Regions from separate parts of the Homo sapiens genome. Here region 2 is linked to region 1. Evidence: fine-mapped expression QTL. Tissue or cell type: whole blood. Region 1 holds a variant in brackets; the other region holds the start of a gene. All regions are shown on one strand. Distances are between the middles of the regions.

What was found. PIP is the estimated chance that this variant, and not a neighbour inherited with it, causes the effect.
Region 2: it holds the start of HACD4, and the variant in region 1 is fine-mapped to the expression of HACD4 in whole blood (TOPMed, PIP above 0.99).

What each region holds. Positions count from the first base shown.
Region 1 is chr9:20,606,053-20,614,052 of GRCh38, reverse strand. The region is part of intron 2 of MLLT3 (MLLT3 super elongation complex subunit); the gene reads left to right. Among named protein-coding and RNA genes, the nearest start is that of MLLT3, 12 kb to the left of the region's middle. The variant G/A (reference allele first, on the strand shown) is at 4,193.
Region 2 is chr9:21,025,335-21,036,575 of GRCh38, reverse strand. HACD4 (3-hydroxyacyl-CoA dehydratase 4) reads left to right here and starts at 4,936. Exons shown (of 7, transcript NM_001010915.5): 1 at 4,936-5,023; 2 at 7,178-7,281; 3 at 9,853-9,980. The coding sequence starts at 4,986. LOC105375989 (a long non-coding RNA gene) reads right to left here and starts at 4,934. Exons shown (of 3, transcript XR_007061435.1): 1 at 4,576-4,934; 2 at 3,925-4,104; 3 at 2,657-3,213. RefSeq lists an enhancer at 4,597-5,157 and a silencer at 4,801-5,160.

The DNA of each region.
Region 1 (8,000 bases):
ATCATCTTTTAAAATTGTTGGATTTTTCTGGTATGACATTGTATATGGATTTATTATACTTCTTTTGGATTGTTCCCAGTTTTGATTTGTTATGAATAGTGCTGTGGTGGACATCTTTGACATTCATTTTAATGGTTTTTCTAATAATTTGTTTATGTTAAATTTCTAGAAGGGAGGTTGTGGAGTCAAAAGGTATACAGAGTTAAAATTTTGTTATATATTACCAAACTTTCCTCCAAAAAGATTGTCCCAGTTTATATTTCCTCAGGCATATAAACTGGAAATTAACAGCTTAAAAAAATCTTTGCCAATCTGTGTGGAAAAACTGCCTCATTTTGGTTTGCATTTATATGATTAGCAGTGCCACATATCTTTCATTATGTATTTATTTACCGTTTGTCTTTTGTGATGTGCCTTTTTTGTCCTTTGTAGTCCATGGCTGCTTTTTTAATTAAAAAAAAAAAAGCATGGGGAAATGCAGAGAATGATATAACAAACATTCAAATCCCCACTACCAAGAATGAATAAATGTTTACATATTATCTTATTTGATTCCTTGTTTGGATTCTGGAGAATTAACTATTATAGATGCAGCTAATGTTTTAAAATGCTTCCCAGCCTTTTCTTCCAACCCTTCAGTCTGTCTTCCATTCTATTTATTTTGCACATATATGTTGCTTACAAATAATAATGTATTGTGTCTTAAAATCAACGTGAAGAGGATCATGCTAGTGAATCTTTTTTTTACAATTGAGATATAATTCACATGCAAAATTTACCCTTTTAAAGTGTGCAAGTCTGTGGTTTTTAGTATATTCATAAGGTTGTGTAACCATTGCCATTATTTAATACCAGAATATTTTTATGAGTGAATACATTTGCATCTTGCTTTTTTCCCCCACTCAATTCTGTTTCTGAACCTGTCCACATTTCATCTATAAAGAGCCACGTCATTCTCTTTAATTTCTTCTGCTTAGTATTTCATCATGGGAATATATTGTATACTTTACTTTTCTGTTTTCCTATTAAGAAATAAATAGGTCATTTTCTGTTCTGTGCAGTGAGCATCTTTGTGCATGTTACCTTGTGCAGATGAACAAGGGTTTGGACATAGGCCTAGATTTTGAGTTATTGAGTTGTGGGCACGTGTGTCTTCATTTGTACTAGCTGCTGTCAGATTGCTCTAAAAAGTGGTTCTGACAGTTTATACTCTGTCAAGAAAATGAGTACCATTTTTCCTCTATATCTTTGCCAATTTTGGCTATTTTAATATTTCCTATTTTTCAGAGTTGAAATTTGGTATCTTTTTGTTTTCATTTACATTTCTCTGGTTCCTGGTGGGATTAAGCATTTTATATATATATATTGACTATTTTGATTTCCTCTTTATTGACTTCTTTTTATATCCTTTTTCTTAAAAGAAAAGATTGGGTTGCTTGTCATTTTCTTGTTTGTAGGATGTTCTTCCTTTGTTATTTTTGTTGAAAATATCTTGCCTCATTTTTTTCTTTTATCTTGATTTATGGTATCTTTTTGCCATATGCAAGCTTTTAATTTTGTCAAACTGATGTGCTTTATTTTGTTTTGTTTTCCTCTCTGGGCTTAGGGTCTTATTTAAGAATTTAGTTCGTGGCCATAGTAATGTGCTTAACCAAAAGGCAATATATATGTAGGATACAGTGAAAGACTGAGGGAGATACAAATAAGAGTAAGAGGAGGTCCCTGCCTTCAGTGTGCTGTGTCTTTTTAGAGCTGGAAAGGACACTTGAGATTCTTCATCTTCGATTACCCTTTCATTTTACTTTTAATCAGAAGCCTAGAAATGTGGAGCAATCTTGCATGTAGACACAATGAGTCACAAGTATGCCTGTGCAAAGATAACTAGTAATAAATGGTGGTCAATGTTTACTTTTAAAACATTGAGTAATAATTCACTTATATTAGCAGACAAATGTTCAGCAATAGCTGCTTTTGTAGACATGATCTAGGATTTAATTAAGTGGTGGTAACCATGGTAGATGCTGTTTAAAAGGAAAAAGTTCTATAGCTACTTTCAGACAAAATCAAATTCTCTATATGAATTAAAGTTTTCCTTTGAGATTAAATCATTAGAAAAAATTGTTGCTGGGTGGTAGTTATCTCCTGATATTTTGTCCCCAATTCACCCAGTGGTAAGAATTGCAATTACATGAAGGATGCAGGGTGTTGTTTTAAGAAGTAATGTTGCATGACTTAATCCTTTTGACTTAAGTGTGGTAAGTTTGCAGTGGTTGACGACTGAAGAAGGCTATTACGATAGAATTTCTAAAAAGATAAGGCCAGCATTTGGGTGTGATTTAGTTGGTATGTAGCAGTTAACAATTAACTTTTTGGATAAAATCAAGTCACCATTTTTTTTATTAAAGAAAATTATGGCTTATCTTTAAAATAGTGTTCATTAGTGATTATAAATATAATTAGTTACCTTTAATTAGTTACACATATTAGAAGGTTGATATTCTCAAAGCCAAGTTAATTTTTTTCTATTTTAAAATATTTGATTTTGTCAAAACTAGATTTTTTTTCTTTGTTCCTTTCCAGTAGAAATTATTAGTTATTTCCTCATCAATACCAGGCAAAATGCTCTGTGTGTGTATATTGATTTTTAAAAGCAAAATATATATTAACAGTTTCCTGAAGTATTAATAATAATAGCAGTGGCTTGGAGAGTAGGGAGGTAATTTGCCTCTTAATGTTTTCAGATATAAATTTTGTCTGAATGATGCCTTTTCATTTTTGCAGATAGGTTTTTATGTCCCATTTCCCCTGCCTCCCTCCAAGGATGGTACTGGGGATAGAATACTGTCTGATTATTCCAGGTATCTATTCATTTGATAAACATGTAAAACACTTTGGGTGTTTAAAAACCAGGTTCATTGTAGACTTTATATCATCTTTACCCTTTACCACAAATACTTCATTAATATGAATAATGAAAGCTAAATAATTACGACCTTTTTTATATTGAAGAAACATTCTTCTATTTCACATAGTATTTTCCTTCATTTTACTTATTTCTCTGTTTCTCTATAATAAGCAGCTGTTTTATAGAGTCAATGAAACATGGGGGATTTGGGCTGTTGAGATTTAGTTGCATTGAGTGGAACACGTTATTTGAAAATGTTGACCCAGTTCAAGATTGTCTGATGCTTGTTGTATGACTTTTTCTCTGTATGCACAGAAATAGTAACTAGTGGGCTGGAAGCTAACTTCCCTCATTTTATGGAGCACCAAAGCAGCACGTGTTATGTGTTACATGCTTTCATTAGACCAACACTCCCTTCTCTTTGTATATGTTATCTCTTTTTCCTCCTGTGTTGCATTAGAGTTACACATCAGAAAGGATGGGACCTATGTTATCACTGTAGATACTACTTATAGCTCCATCAATGTAATGTCTTGACCCTGGAATTTTTTGGCAACCGTATAAAGGCAGGTATTGCAAGTCAGAAAAAGGGTTTTAGAATCCCTGGCTTTACTTTCCACTCCTGTAAGTTATAAATTATTACTCAGATTTCTGAAACTCATTTCTTCTGCACCTCTAATAATTGACTTTGTGTAAACAGAACCACCACTTGAATTTAGCAGGAAACATTGTGTCTGCTGAGAATCACATTTTCTAGAATGTGTTCTAGCATTTGTAATAGGCAAAAATGAATTTTTCTCTTTTCTCTTTTTTCCCTTATTCTTTCTTCACTTACTTTGGATGCTTAAAAAGAAAAGCTAGACACAAACTTGAAGGACTTGGCCAGCTCTATCATTTTTTTACTACCTAATCCATGAAATACAACCAGCCTTTTAGCTTTAAAAATAAGAGTCTAATGTAATTCCAGTAACTGGTAGGAGCAGTATTTAGCAGTGTGGCAGGAAAGGCCCTGGCCTGGGAGGTAGAAAGGATGTGTTTGGACTGAATAAGCTGTGTGGGCTTTTGCAGCTCTGAAAATACTGTTTTTCCTTTAGTTTTAAAAAGGATAAATTCTGCAATTGTCATTGATCTAGTGTTTTTATAACAATGAAATAATAACTACCCTTTATTAAATAGCTATATTGGTTATCATGCTAGACAATAGACATGTGGAGTATTTAATTTCTGACTCTTCCTAAGTAGTAGTTCGGAGAATGATATTCTTGAGAAAATAAAATACCAATATAT[G/A]AACATCAGTGTATTGGAATTTTATCCTTTCTTATGGTGAATGGACAGTGAAATGGGTGAAAGACTTGCTGCAGTAATAGGGAAGTAGAAGATAACATGAGTAATTCACCAAATAAGGGATTAAGTTACACTTGTAAAAGTTAATTTCTGATCATATCGGTGCCATTCACCTCAACCATCAACTATTACTTGTAGATTGGAGCATTTCAAGAACTCAGAAGACCACCCAGTGTTGATAGGAAACTTCTTCCTCAATTATGGCTCTTGACCATGCCATTAGATCGTTGGGTTTTTCATGCTTTTTTGTCTTTTACATAAAATAGACCTTGAAATTGTGTCACTTAATTTGCTTTTCTGAAGTATCACTTACCAGATATTACTTGTGTTTTTATTATCAATAGAGTAATAATTGAGGACTGCCCATGTAAGCTAATTGAGGGCTGTCTGTATTATCATGTGAACAGATTAGAAGAAAGTATATGAAATTTTTGATCATCCAACATACTTGCATACATACATATAAGAATAAATAGGGTTTTCTATTTAATAATTCAAATGCTGAATTGAAGTTGTTTTGAAAAGCAAGTACTTTTCTACTCTTCAGTTGTAACATGCTGTATAACTTTTAGGTCAAAGAAAAAATAATTTTAGTTAGCATTCCAATTCTGTAAAGGAAATTGTCAAGCAATTGACTAGAGCCGATAATTTATCCAAAAATACACAAATGCAGACATTTAAAATAGAGCTGCAAATAAATAGGAATTTTCTTACATTGTAAAGGCTAAACAATAGCTTATAGTTAATGCTTCTTGACAGAGTATCTTTTTTAGGTTAACATCATTGATTCAGTTCATTTTCTGTGTTAGAATGGCTAGATTTGTTCATCTTTACCCCACATTTTGAGAAGTATGTGATAGATAAAAATACATCACTGAAAAGATGGGAAGAAATACTATCGTAGAATGTTAATATAAGTGATCTCTGGGACGTGGGATATCAGGAACTTCTTATTGTTGTCAGTAAAATTCGTTGGCTTTTTCAAGTTTTCTTGAATGACTCATATTATGTGAAAGTAAAACTAGTATTTAAATGTATGTATGGGCACATTTACAATAAGATTTTTAGTTTTTTCTACAAGTAATTTGGAACATGATTAAGACTGTCTTTCCCAAGAAACATTTTCAAATTTTGCTATTTGACATTTTTGCCACCTTGTCGTTTTGAGTCTTTTCCTTTAATGTTACTATGAGTATTTGCACAATGTTTCATAAGTTGATCGTAAGCTTTAAAGGGAGACATGTAGATAACGTTCTTACCTTTCTTAACATTTTGTATTGAAGTTATAAAAGTAATGAGATTAACCTGATTTATAAATGTGTATTCATATAGGATAGTCTTGGTAACAGAAAGATACCCATGTGTAATATATCAGTACAGTATACATTTTTGGAGTACTTAGGAATGTTTTGAAAAGTTCTGGCCCTTTTTTCCTGTGGAGTTTTGATAACTTTGATAATTAACATGTCTATCTTGCTGTGTAGTGTTAAAAATTTTTCTAGAGCCTACATCTGACTTTAAAAATCAACTACAAATAAAAAGACTGTCATCATGTTGCTTAGATATATGGTGATTATGTTGAAGAATAAATAGTATTGATAATTGGAAATAAAAGACTCAATTCCAATGTGTGCATCTTTGTATATAATTTGGAAGTTAAACATGAACTTTTAAGAAATAAAAAGTACCAAAACAAGTACCAAACATAAGGCATAGAGAAAAAAAGATTTAGGGCAGAGAAAGAAGTGGTCCTTTTTGGATGGAGAATTCATGCATAATTCCATAAATTCAAACTATTTTGATACTAAGATGATTTTATTAATATTTCATATATAAGCTACAAAAATAACTAGAGGTTTTTACAAAGGGAAATTAGTACATAATTTTATGTTTTATATACAATGCAGATTGATATGAATATTCCTTAAGCATAACTAAAAATGATTTCCGCAAAATGAGGAGGTTAATTTTAGTTGTCTCAAGGGTCTCTCTGCAATCTAAAATTTATCTAATTAAGTCCATGATTTTATAGTCCGTGAGAAAACACATTTGCATTTTGACATTAAACTTTAAAAGTGTACTGTGCACTAATGCATAGCAAAGCTATATGTCAAATAAAAATAAGGGCATTTTCCCTTTAGTAGTAGATGATTTTACAAAATCCATAAAATACAAATAGATTAACTCTACCTTAGAATGTTTGTGAAATATAAACAATGATGTTTATGATCTGGGTATTTCTTATTAGCTGCTTGAATAAAATTGCAACTTCAAATTCTATTTGCCAGCATTTGGAATAAGATTATATTCCATGAACTTAATTTAGTTCTGCTGACAAATTTCTGCTTAACTATGTCTATTCCTTTTGAGAGAATTCTAAATGTGATTGATAATGGCCTGGAATCCCTTCTTCAGGATTAAGGTGTATACAAGAATGAGGAAAATATACTCTTTGGCACAATGAGTACAGATGGCAATGTTTATTTGCTGCTTTTATTAGTAAGTTAATTTATATAGATGTCTTAACTGCAAAAATAAAATAATAGTTTTAAAATTAAGTAATTGTTTTAAAACTTGTTATAACCAAATACCCCAGACACCAAGTTGAAGAGTGGAGAGTTTGAGCAATATGAAGACCTGGTTTGAGTATTGCAAAGAGATTCCAAATTGGCACCAAATTAAATAAAAATACTCATAAAATTTTGTTATAGGACAGACAAAACTATGGTAGATGACGATAGTGTACAAATGGCCCTTATTTGGAGCATATGGAGTGGGAGCATATTTTGCAGTGAAAGAGGAACCAGAGGACAAGGTGTTCTCTACTTGTAGACTTGTAAAGACCTCTGAGTTTTCTTTATGTTATTGTAGAAAGACATTATTTTTGCTTTGGTGTGCTTAAAACTAAAGGGCAAATGATCCAAAAGAATAATCTTGAAATTCAATAGCAAGAGAACTACTTGACATTGTGGGCTGGAGGCCAGCAAACGTGGGGCTTTCATTGAATGCGTGGGAAATGGGGCAGGCCTGGAATTTAAAGAGACAGGGTGCAGTACCCTAGAAAAGAAAAGCCCTCCTGTATGATTTGCTTACTTGGAGAAAAAAAATAGACTTAAAGTTTTCTCTAAAGGATCTTTATTGGATCAACTGTTTAAGGCATTGAAAGACACTGAGTGAATTTTTCCTAACTCCACCTCCCACACTCCCTAGCCATCTTCTCTTGTCTGAAATTGGTGCAGAGTAAAATTGTTTATAACAGAGCACAAGCAGCTTTTCAAATAAAAGTACTTTGTAGCCTGTTCAAATGGAGTATAATGTAATTCTCTCTGAAATTGAGCACTTATTACTTTGTTTATGTAGCTGTTTTAAAAGTACGGGTGGGTGAAGGGGGTACGGCAGGAACCTCTGCTTTAGAAATTACTGTTTTTTTCTGAGTTTTCCTCCCCCATCCACTCATGAATCCGCCTTCACCCCTCCCCCACCTCCTGCAATCCCTCAATAAAATAGTATTTAAAAGACTTGAATAACCAGTCCTATGTACCAGCTTCTTGCTGGAGGCAATAATGTTCTATTTTCAATGGGTGGTCTTGAATCTCCATGGGAGATTTTACAGGCAGTGGGCTCCAAGACCCACTAAGTGTATTATATGAACATAACCAGCTAAATTTCCCAGCCATAGAGAATACGCAGGGATAGTTTTACGTTATTGAATTCTCGTCATTAATTACTTGCAAACTAATTTATTTAATTT
Region 2 (11,241 bases), 420 kb before region 1:
CAGTATTCACCAACTGCAGATTGTGTAAATGCCATACGCTAAGGTGCCTTGGGGAGAAGGGCAATAAATCAAAGAGTCTGCCCTGGAGCATACTGAGTTTCTTTTTATTGAAAAATCTTGTTTTGTATTGTTTACTTTTCCCTTGAAAATCACAGGATGTTATATCATAAGCAATAATAAAAGTTATTCAAAACAGAAAACCCTACATTTCTCTTTATAAATATTAGTGTGTTAAATATTAGTGTGTTAGTGTATTAACAGCTCTATTGAGGTGTAACTAACATATACTAAACTGCAATAAACTGAATCAATTTAAACTGATAAGTTTTAAGATAGATACATGCCTGAAAAACCTCACCACAAGCAAAACAATTAACATTTCCACCTCTCATGCTCCTTTGCAATCCCTCCCTTTTTTCATTCCTCTTCACTATCTATCCTCAGACAGCCACTTATTTTCCTTCTATCAGTGATGATTAGTTTCCACTTTCTAGAGCCTTAAATAAGTAGAATCATACAGTATCTATTCTTTTTTTTTCTGGCTTCTGACATTCAGTTTGATTATTTTGAATTTCATCCATGTTATTGCTTGTATCAGTAGTTCACTTCTTTTTACTGCTGAGTTGGATTTCATTGTACAGTTATGCCATAATTTATTTATCCATTCATCTGTTTATGGAAATTTGGGTTGTTTTCAGTTTTTGGCTATTAAAAATAAAGCTGCTTATGAGAATCCCCATTGTGGCACATCTTCACTAACACTTGTGGTGGTTAACTCTTTTTCATCTTAGCCATCTTTATCAGTGTGTAGCGATATCTCATTGTGGTTTTATTTTCATTTCCATAATTACTAATTATTTTGACCATACTTTTATGTTCTTTCTTTGTCTCTTACTTGGTTATGTGTGTTTTCAAATCTTTTGCCTATTTTGGGGGGGTTTATTGTCTTCCAATTATTGAGTTTTGAGAGTTCTGTATATATTTGCAAACAAGTTCTTTATTAGTTATGCGATTTTTAAATATTTTCTTCTACTATATAGCTTCTTTTCACTCACTTGAAAGTGTCTTTTGAAGGCCAGAAGTAGCTAAGAAATGCTTGCTTAGCTATCTAAGAGGGCTTCTTAGATGAAATACCTAAGAAATCTCTACCTAACCCAAGGTCACAAAGAGTTTTATTCTGTGTTTTCTTTGAGGGAGAGGAGTGACCTCTGAAAACTCAAGGTGCTGAAAATAAAAAAGAATTTATTTTGTAGCCAGTCTGTTACTGCCATGAAATATATTTCAAGGTTTTAGCCTCCCAGATGGTGCTCTTTGGGATGAAAACAAATTGAAGCATTTGCCCAAGGAAAACAAAATTGACATGTTCGAATAATTTTAAAATTTCTTCTAAAGATTAGAATATATTAATTCAGTTGTTATCTTGGACTCTGACTTCTTCTGTACCAGTGGATAACTGAAAGTTGAATATACATACTTCAGTAATGTAACTATCACTGAATGTTTTGTTTTGGGTTAAAATTTTGGGAATAGAAAACTCATACTAGATTTAATTCATTCATCCAACATATTTATGGATACTTACTATGCCAAGCACTGTACTAGGGGCTTTTATCCATTTTCATCTATAAATTTTATTATTTGATCTTTCTAATAACTGTGTGCTTTTGGCAAAAGAAACTTCATTTTTAAAGGTTAAAAGTTGTCAAATTCTCACTGTTAGTGAGAGAGAAGCCTCTGAGAATCTATAATCTAGTTAAATAGTCAAGTACCTTGACAACAACAATACCCTAAGATAAATACCAACATAGACATACGTTAGCCTATGTGACTCCCAGAGGGGATCTTTGGGAAGGCTTTTAAAGAATGAATAGAATTTTGACAGGTAAGTACTGGGCTGTGATAAGGGGAGGAGGTAGAATAGAAAAAGTAGACGGGAAATTTTTCACAGAGGCACATTGGCCAGAGAATGCCTGGTGTGGTCATGGAACAGCAGGTTGCTGTGATTTTTGGTAAGGGGATAGGATGGTAGGAGATGTCAGCATGTGACAGGTTTAGGGGCAAGAAGAGATATACTGTAGCAGGCAACGGGGAGTCAGCAAAAGATTTAGACCAGGAGAATGGCTACATCAGAACTGTGTTTTAAGAAATATTTTTGCCATCCTTAAATAATCTATGGCAGTCTGGGTAGAAGGAGGAAAGAGATTGGAGGCAGGGAGGCTGGGGGAGGCCATCTTGATAATGCTGGCAGGACGTGGGCAGGACTGGGAACTGACCAGGGGAAAGGGAGAATTTCACTTTTCATACAAAATGTTCTCTCCTAAGCTCTTTTTGTACTCTTTCCTTGGGAAATAACGTAGAATCAGCTAACTGCTTGATTTGAAAGGATTTTTTATTTTTCGACTGATTGGCTTGTTCTTTTTTGGCAACTAAAAAGGGCCTCTTTTTGTGCAGCAGAAAGATATAACCCAAGACGCTCCAGAAAGTCAACTGAGTTATGATGTAAAGAATGGATGTGAGGGAGGCCAATTACTCCTCACCCAGGTACTGGAAAATAAGGAATGGACAAAGAACACTACTGATTAGTAGGAGATCTGGAAAGGATGGGATCAATCGAATTTGATTGGATGGGGTGCTTAATGATGACTCCCCAATTTAAAATCAAGTGGCTAGAAAAATGGTGGTCTTTCTGTGGGAAATAATGATTTAGGAAGAGAGATAGTATGCTTATTTTAAATAGGTTGAATTGGAAGACGTTCCAAAGATAGTCCAAACAATAGGACTTTCATGAGGAAATATCCAAAAGCTGCTCAAAGGCCAGAGATAGTATTCATAAAAGAAGAAAGGGCTGAAAATAATAGTCAAAAGTTGTCCACATGGAGATAAAGCCATGTGTGGTTGTCTATGCTGAGGGATAACATGGTGACAAATGGATGGTGACTAAGGGCAGACTTTTGAGGAAATACAGCAGGAGAAGAAGACCCATCCAGAGAGACAGAAGGGACATAAGGCAAGAGACGTAGAATATGTAGAACTTCAGGGGTAAATGGCAGACAGACAGAACTGGTAAAATGCAGCAGACCTGTCAATGAGGATGTGGATGCAGGGGCTGTGTTTGGTGACAAAGGATCAATTCTTCTGGGCAGGCTTTCCACCTTCTCCCTCCTGCCCCACTGCAGGCCATCTGGGACTTTACTTTCTCTCTTGCTGCTTAACCTGATCAGAGATAGCATTGATAATGGGTTAGCCACCAGTTTACCCTTTAGATCAAATGTTCTGTAAAAGCAAGGACCGTGGGGCATCATCCTGCAAGGTGATACAGGATAGGGATTCGGCGAAAAATTAACATGCTCGCGGACGGAGCAGTGTCAGGAGAGTCAAACTGTAAGGTATTATGGAACAGGAAGATGGTAGGAAATGAAAGAAGCACCTGATCAGAGAAGGCAGGCAGGGAGTTATTAGAAGATTCCATTGAGAGAGAAACAGAAAGAATACAATGTTTAATTATATGCTAAGAGAGAGTTGTCTATGTCCCTAAAGTGCAGTGAAAGCCAATGGAAAGGAGGGGATGACGATGCAAGAAGAGGCGATGGTTAACTACTGATGCAGTGAGTCTGAGAAGGGACTGGTAAACACAAAGTTGGGGTTAACCTCCGACTGAGGGCAGGGTATGAGAGAAGGTGCAGAGAAATGTAGAGGTGAGAGGTAGGCATAGTGAATGGAATGGACTATGAAAAAAGGAAGCCACGGCCTAATGGGAAACAAACAAGAAATCCCACCAACCTTGAAGTTCTGATACTGCCATTTTATCAATTGTGTGACCTGTGCCAAGTGACTTAACATTTTTTTAATGCCTCAACTTCCCTTTTGGTAAAAATGGGGGCGCTAACTTCCAACTCCAAAACCAGGTGCCATTGTCCCACTTACTTGCAAGTGCCTTCTTAGATGTTTCTGTTTTTGTTTTAACGTTTCCCTTTCTGGGCAGAGGAGCTTGAAGATGGGCTGGATCTTATTAGCAAAGCAGGAGGGTGGGTCATCTGTGTACGGAGACAGTGATGTCATAAGCCTGAGAGATCACGAAGGGGTTGTAGCAGTGCTGGGCATAGGCTAGAGAAATTAACACAACGTGAATAAAGATTTGCAGGCACCAGTGAGAACCCAAGGGAGATTAGAGAGCAGGGAGGCCTGATAGAAGAGGAATCAGGCCCCTAGCTGAAAAAGTGTTGGGGAGGTGTGCTACAAACTTCGTTTTATTTTTATTTATTTTTTGAGACAGGATCTCGCTCTGTTACCCAGGCTGGAGTGTAGCCGCGTGATCTTGGCTCATTGCAGCCTCGACCTCCCAGGCTCAAGCGATCCTCCCACCTCAGCCTCTGGAGTAGCTGGGACCACAGGCCCGCGTCACCATGCCCGACTAATTTTTGTACATTTAGTAGAGACGCGTTTTCGCTATGTTGCCCAGGCTGGTCTCGAACTCCTGGGCTCAAAAGATCCTCCCGCCTCGGCCTCCCAAAGTGCTGGGATTATAGGCATTAGCCACTGCGCCCGGCACAAGCTTCGTGTCTGAACCTGGCTCACCGGTGGGCATTGAGCAGAGCCCACCCTGGAATCCACTCATCTCGGGAGGTTTGGGGATGGGCTTCAGCGAGTTCGGAGGCCCCGGAAATCGCCCAGATGCATTAATTTCCAGAAGGCTTGCAAGGGGGTCTCAACACAAAGATTAGGAAGCTGTAACCAGAGTTTGGTAACCCCACCGGGAACGCGAGCCGCCTCCCAGCCTTGCGCCCTGACGCGCTCTAGCAGTGCTGCAGAAACTTCGAGAACTTCGTTTTCATCTCTTCCCCAACGCACGACCTCGGGCTTTTTCTTTTTGTAAACTGCTGAGTGTGGAGAGGCCCCGCCCTTCCGCGCCCAGCCGCGGGGCCGCCCCTGCCTCCTCCCCGGTACTCCTTCCTGGACCGCGCTGGAAGCCCTGGCGGCGGCGGCCCATGGGGCCCTTGGCGCTGCCCGCCTGGCTGCAGCCCAGGTAGGGCGCTCGGCCGAATCCCGAGGGGAGGGGGCGCGGGTGGAGGGCCTGGAGGCGGGAGCTCCCCTCTGCGGCGGGCGGGCGGGCGGCACCCCCCGCCCGCCAGCAAGGCGCAGCGCTACCGTGCCCAGGCACCCCTTGGAGCTCATGCAGGTATTTGCTAACTTACCCCTCTTGACCACCCTAGGAAGCAGGCTCTGTTATTTTCTCCATTTTACAGTTGAATGGGAAGGACAGGCTGCATGGCTACCCCTGCCCTTGTGAGCCCTCTGCCAGTACTTCCCTCCCCCCAGGAGCCTTCTCTTGACTTTCTCAGACGCAGAGTTGCGGGGTGATTTTTAGATGTAACAGCCGTGGAAACACCTATCACACGTATAGATTTCAGGGCCTAGTTCCGGCGGGGAACAGATTCAGTCATATAGCGGTAGGGCCTGGGGGTGTATATGTTTAACCCACAAGCCAGGTAATTCTGATACAAGCTGAAGGAGGATTTCCTCTTCCCAAACCCTTTAGCAGTTCCTGCCTTTATAGGGGAGGATGTCCCCAAATAAAAATCATTCTGCCTCCCAGCTTATTTTCCTTGTTTCTAGGAGGTTTCACATCTTCAAGGAGGAGTAAATCTTGACCACACTGGCAGGGCCACTCCCGTCACTCTTCTGAACTCCCAGGGAACATTTCAAACAGTGCTTTTCCTAACTCCCTCAAACCATCTATCTGTCAATCTTCTCTTAGTCATCTCCCCAGCAACTCACAACACATTGTTAAACCCAGCTTGACTTCCCTCTTCTGGTATGAGCAACTAAACTGCTTTCGATATGTATCTGATGAAGGAAACTATCTACCCTTGCAAAATGTTAATAGGCAGTGGCAAGATGTTAATACTAACCTCAATCACATAATGTGTTCAAAAGTCAGGTGTGTCCAATTACTGAATTACCCAACATTTGGATTACTCCCATCCCTACCCCCCTTCAGAACTAAAACACTGTGTCTCAAGTTCTGCACTTAGCAAGCTGAGCTACTGGAACACATAGTGACATGTCAACCACTCTGCACACATGGATTTTTTGTTGTTGTTGTTGTTTTGTTTTTTATTTTTTATTTATTTTTGAGAACAGAGTTTTGATCTGTCGCCCAGGCTGGAGTGCAGTGGCGCTGTCTCGGTTCACTGCAGCCTCTACCTCCCAGGTTCAAGTGATTGTCCTGCCTCAGCCTCCTGAGCAGCTAGGTAGCTGGGATTACAGGCATACGTTACCACATCCGGCTTTTTTTTTTTTTTTTTTGTAAGTTGCCATGTTGGCCAGGCTGGTCTTGAACTTCTGGCCTCAAGTGATCCAACCCGCCTTGGCCTCCCAAAGTGCTGGGATTACATGCCTGAGCCACCGCGCCCAGCCTGTTTTGTTTTTTTAAAGAATATTCAAAGCCACCTTCGCAGTGGTTTCTTTTATTCCTTGGTGAGCAGCAAGGTTAGAACTTTATCAAAGATGAAAGCAGATTTTGAAAAAGCACTATATTTGGTTTTAAGCAAACTCACTATACAGATGGTCCATGACTCACAATTTTTTAAACTTTGTGATGGTGTGAAAATGATATGTATTCATTAGAAACCGTACTTCAAATTTTGGATTTTAATCTTTCCCCAGGCTAGCGATGTGCAGGTATGATATCCTTTCATGATGCTGGGCCGCGGCATCAGGCCGCAGCTCCCAGTCGGCCGCATGATCAGGAAGGTAAACAACCGGTACTCCACAGTGCACTGTGTTGCCAGATGATTCCACCCAACTGTAAGCTAATGTAGGTGTTCTGAGCAAGTTTAAGGTAGACTAGGCTAAGCTGTGATGTTCTGTAGATCAGTTGTATTACATGCATTTTCAACTTATGATATTTTCAGTTTATGATATTTTCAGCTGATGGGGTGTACCAGGACGTAACTTCATCATAAGTGAAGAAGCATCTGTATTTACTTTAGCGGGTAGTGTAGGTTATGGCTCCCTTCAAAATCTGATATGTACTTGGGGGTAACCAGATAAAAGACTGATATGAAACAGTTTTCTTTTGCTTTCTCAGGTTGGCCAGTACATTAAAGGGCATGTGTACAGTGATGAAAGGATGATTATAAAAGAAGTGTTTAATGGTATTTTCCTGTATTTATAGGTATAGGAAGAATGCGTATCTTTTCATCTATTACTTAATCCAGTTCTGTGGCCACTCTTGGATATTTACAAATATGACAGTCAGATTCTTTTCATTTGGAAAAGGTAAAACTCCGAAACAGTTTTTTTATTTTTAACTTTTAATCCTTGTTTTCACCTCATCCTGCTTATATTAAATTTCTACACACCTCAACCTTCTAATATCCTTCTCTAAAATTTGTATTTTTTAGCAACCATGTTTATTGCAAAACCTTCTTGGGGAAGGGGGAAGGTGGGATAAGTAAGGGAAAGGGATTTGGCTTCCCCCTGAGTTGGCAGTTTGCCTCAAAAAAGAGATGGATGGCACTGAGGTGGTATCATTTCATTGTTCCTTTTCCATTCTGTACCAAACCTTAGCAGATTTCTAGTGTTTTGAGGAAATCTCAGCATAACATTTTATGCAGAGAAATCAGGAATGAATCAAATTCTTCCAGTGTTTGTATTATTCCCCAGGTTTGAGGTAACTGGAGACTACTAGTAAGTGAAATACAAATTTTATATTCCCCAAGCCTCTATTTGGTCCCTTTAAGAAGTAATATGTAAATGACACACTTTGTAGAGGGCTAACCACTTATATAGGAGTCAGCATTAATGGTTTAAGTCATAAACTTCCTCTAGTTTCCTGAAAAGTAAAGTCACTGTTGGGTGACTAAATGACTATCAAAATAACATTCTCTTCATGTTCCATCCGCACGTGGGTAAGTGTCCTCACAGTTTACAACTGTTGAGTGACTTGACAATCTAAGCAACTGCTGGCTTCAGCTAAAAACAAATGTTTAGAATGTAGCTGGGAAAAGTCATGCTGTGCTCATCATTTCAGACGTGTGTATCATAAGGAAGTTATTCTACTTGCAGGGTCCCATAAGCTATTTTATGTTGCTTTTTCTTACTGAAAATCTACAGATATAGTCTCGCCTTTGTTAAGGACCTCCAAAGATATAACCTAAAGCTTGAGTTTCAACTACAAATGTTGAGAGTTTTCAAGCACAGGAAAACACAGGTGATGGGAAAACTTCTTTTATATTTTTATTAAAAAGCCATCACTTCTAGCCCTTTGAGGTTTGCTGAGGCAGTGCAGGCATATTACATGTCATTGGCAACACAAGCCATGGACTGGCTTATGCTGTCTCACCTTTCCAGTGAGAAAAGTTGCCTTAGTCATCAAGTATTTCTTTTTCTTTTCTTTCTTTTTTTTTCTTTTCTTTTTTCTTTTTTTTTTTTTTTTGAGATGGAGTTTCCCTCTTGTCGCCCAGGCTGGAGTGCAATGGTACGATGTCACCTCACTGCAACCTCTGTCTCCCAGGTTCAAGTGATTCTCCTGCCTCAGTTCCCTGAGTAGCTGGGATTACAGGTGCCCGCCACCATGCCTGGCTAATTTTTGTATTTTCAGTAGACACGGGGTTTCACCACATTGGCCAGGCTGGTATTGAACTCCTGACCAAAGGTGATCCGCCTGCCTCAGCCTCCCAAAGTGCTGGGATTACAGGCGTGAGCCACTGTGCCCGGCTCGGCGCATTTCTTTCTCAGTTATTATCCTGCCATTACAATTGTAGAAGCTTATTATTAAAGAAACACAACCGATTCGTTCAGGAGACAGACTGAAAACAACTAAGTGTGGTTTCAGTACAATTTTTGAATCAATGTATAAATTATGTAAGTAGCTCAACAGAAACCTGAAACCCTGAACGTGTTATACCTGCTACCTTCTTCCTTCACGGAGCTGTGTAATTCATAATGCTCTGGTACAGCAAGTGCAGGGCAGTGGATAAGAGCATGGACTGTGTACTTCAGGAACCATCTCTGAAATGGGGATGATGATAATAGTGTCCATCTTGTGGAGCTGCCGAGAAGAGAAATCCTTACTGCTCAGTAAATTATTATTGTGTGAATCATCACTGGGCAGTAAAGAGAGCAAAATCTTCCCTACGAGTTTCTAAACATGGCAGGATTTCATTTTAGAACTTAAAGCAACACATTTATCCTATGTAGAGGAACATTTGTTTCCCTTCCATTTCAGCTCCAAGTGCACAGTATTTCATGTGAACCCTCTGCAATGCAAACCCCAAAAGTCCTGATCAGAGGCCCAAGTTCCAGTGTTTAACAAAATCCAGAAAAGCACTAACCAAATATGTATAGAAACAAAATCCTAGATACCTATGTTATTTGATATCATGGCATTATTAGTGTCATTTCCATAAAGTTTCTCCGAAATAATATTTTTTCTCATCTTTGTCATTTTCTTGTCAGTGGAGAAGCTGTGAGCACATAGTGTCCTTAACAAGCTCACTTCTATTTACACTTGAGGTGGTCTAGATTCTAGGAGGTTACTCTTATGTGGGAATTGCTTTATAATCTTATAAGTGGGGAATAAATGCTATGTGTATGTTTGGCCATGAAATCTTTCTCAAGTTTCGATTTCTTTTTGGAACAGGAGCAATTAAAATAGACTACAGTATGAAGTGCTTTGTTTGTTTGCATTGTATTGTTAATAATTTAGTAGCCTACTTAAGGAATTTTTCACATGTACAATGAAAAAGGAAGTGAATAATCTCCATTTGACTTCAAAGTGCTGCATAAATTTGGGTTATAATCCAGTTTTTTCTTCCTATATCTGCATTTTTAACCCACGGGATACAGATTCAATGGTTGACACTTTTTATGCTATTGGACTTGTGATGCGACTTTGCCAATCCGTATCTCTCCTGGAACTGCTGCACATATATGTTGGCATTGAGTCAAACCATCTTCTCCCAAGGTTTTTGCAGGTAGGTTTGAATCACATATTATTATAGAATCTGTTTCATTTTTACATTTTTTCTCTTTAAAGCTTCTCTTGACTTTATGGCAGTTAGAAAGCCAACCCTTGTCTTAGGTCACTGATAAGGAGAATTAATTTCATGGAAGGACAACCTTATTGTAAAACTGCCCAGTTAGAATAACCAGTTGGAAACACTGAGGGCAGTGATGCTTGCTGATCTTGCAGCACTGCATTGGTCCTATCCTGGAAGGAGATTTCGTAGCCACTTGCTACCCTCACTGTGTCACTGCCTGGGTTAGTAGAAGACAATGATAAGGCATAGGACTGGAGACTTAGGCTTGAAGCCTGGCTTTTCTGCTTACCACTATGGGATCATACCACCCATACTATGGGAACAACCATTGGGCTGTTGAGGGAAAGGACACCACAAATAATACCTGGCAAAGAGTAGATGATTAAAAAACAAAAGGCTTCCTTCATCTACATCCAGAGAATAGAGTACTCCTAGGCCATTTCTTGCTCATTCCCTCTTTTTTACTAAACGTCAATGGAAAGAGGAGATCATTTGTGTTTATCTAGTACAGCATCTAAGGATAGACTTGGGGAACACACAGACCCGGATTCAAATCCCAGTTCTACTTTGCACTAGTTGTATACATTTAAACAAGTCATTTAATCATTCTGAACTGCATTTTCTCATGTGATATGAAAATAACATGTATCTTATGAAGTAACTGAGAAAATGGATAAGTTCCTGGCACTTAGTTAAGAATACAATACTCGGCAGCTATTATTACTATTTTCTTAACTATTCTTTGTTCCCTCTTCCATGCCTCTAGCCCTAGATTACCATGTTCTTTGTAAAGACAGGTTGAAGGAAGATGGGAAATTTACTAGTAGTGACTTCATGTAGAAAATCATTGCTGGATAAAGGCAAAAAAATAAAAATAAAGATTTTCTGTAAATTTTATATAGCTCATATAGTTGTCCCTTTCTTATGGGACAGTAAAGGTTAGGCAACTATAAGAACACGAGTTTCAAGTCTACAGAAATAGGTATCTACATGAGTATAATTTTAGGTATCCTCAAAATAAATTTGAAAAATTGATAATTTTGACAATTTCACATTGTAAAAATAATGAAAATGTCAGAATTTTATGGTGTTGCCAGCACCTAGCAAAGTGCTTAGAATGTAAATGTACACTTTAAATTTTTGTTAAATGAAAGAGTGGTATAGATCCTTATATTAAAATTTGTCTAAAATATCA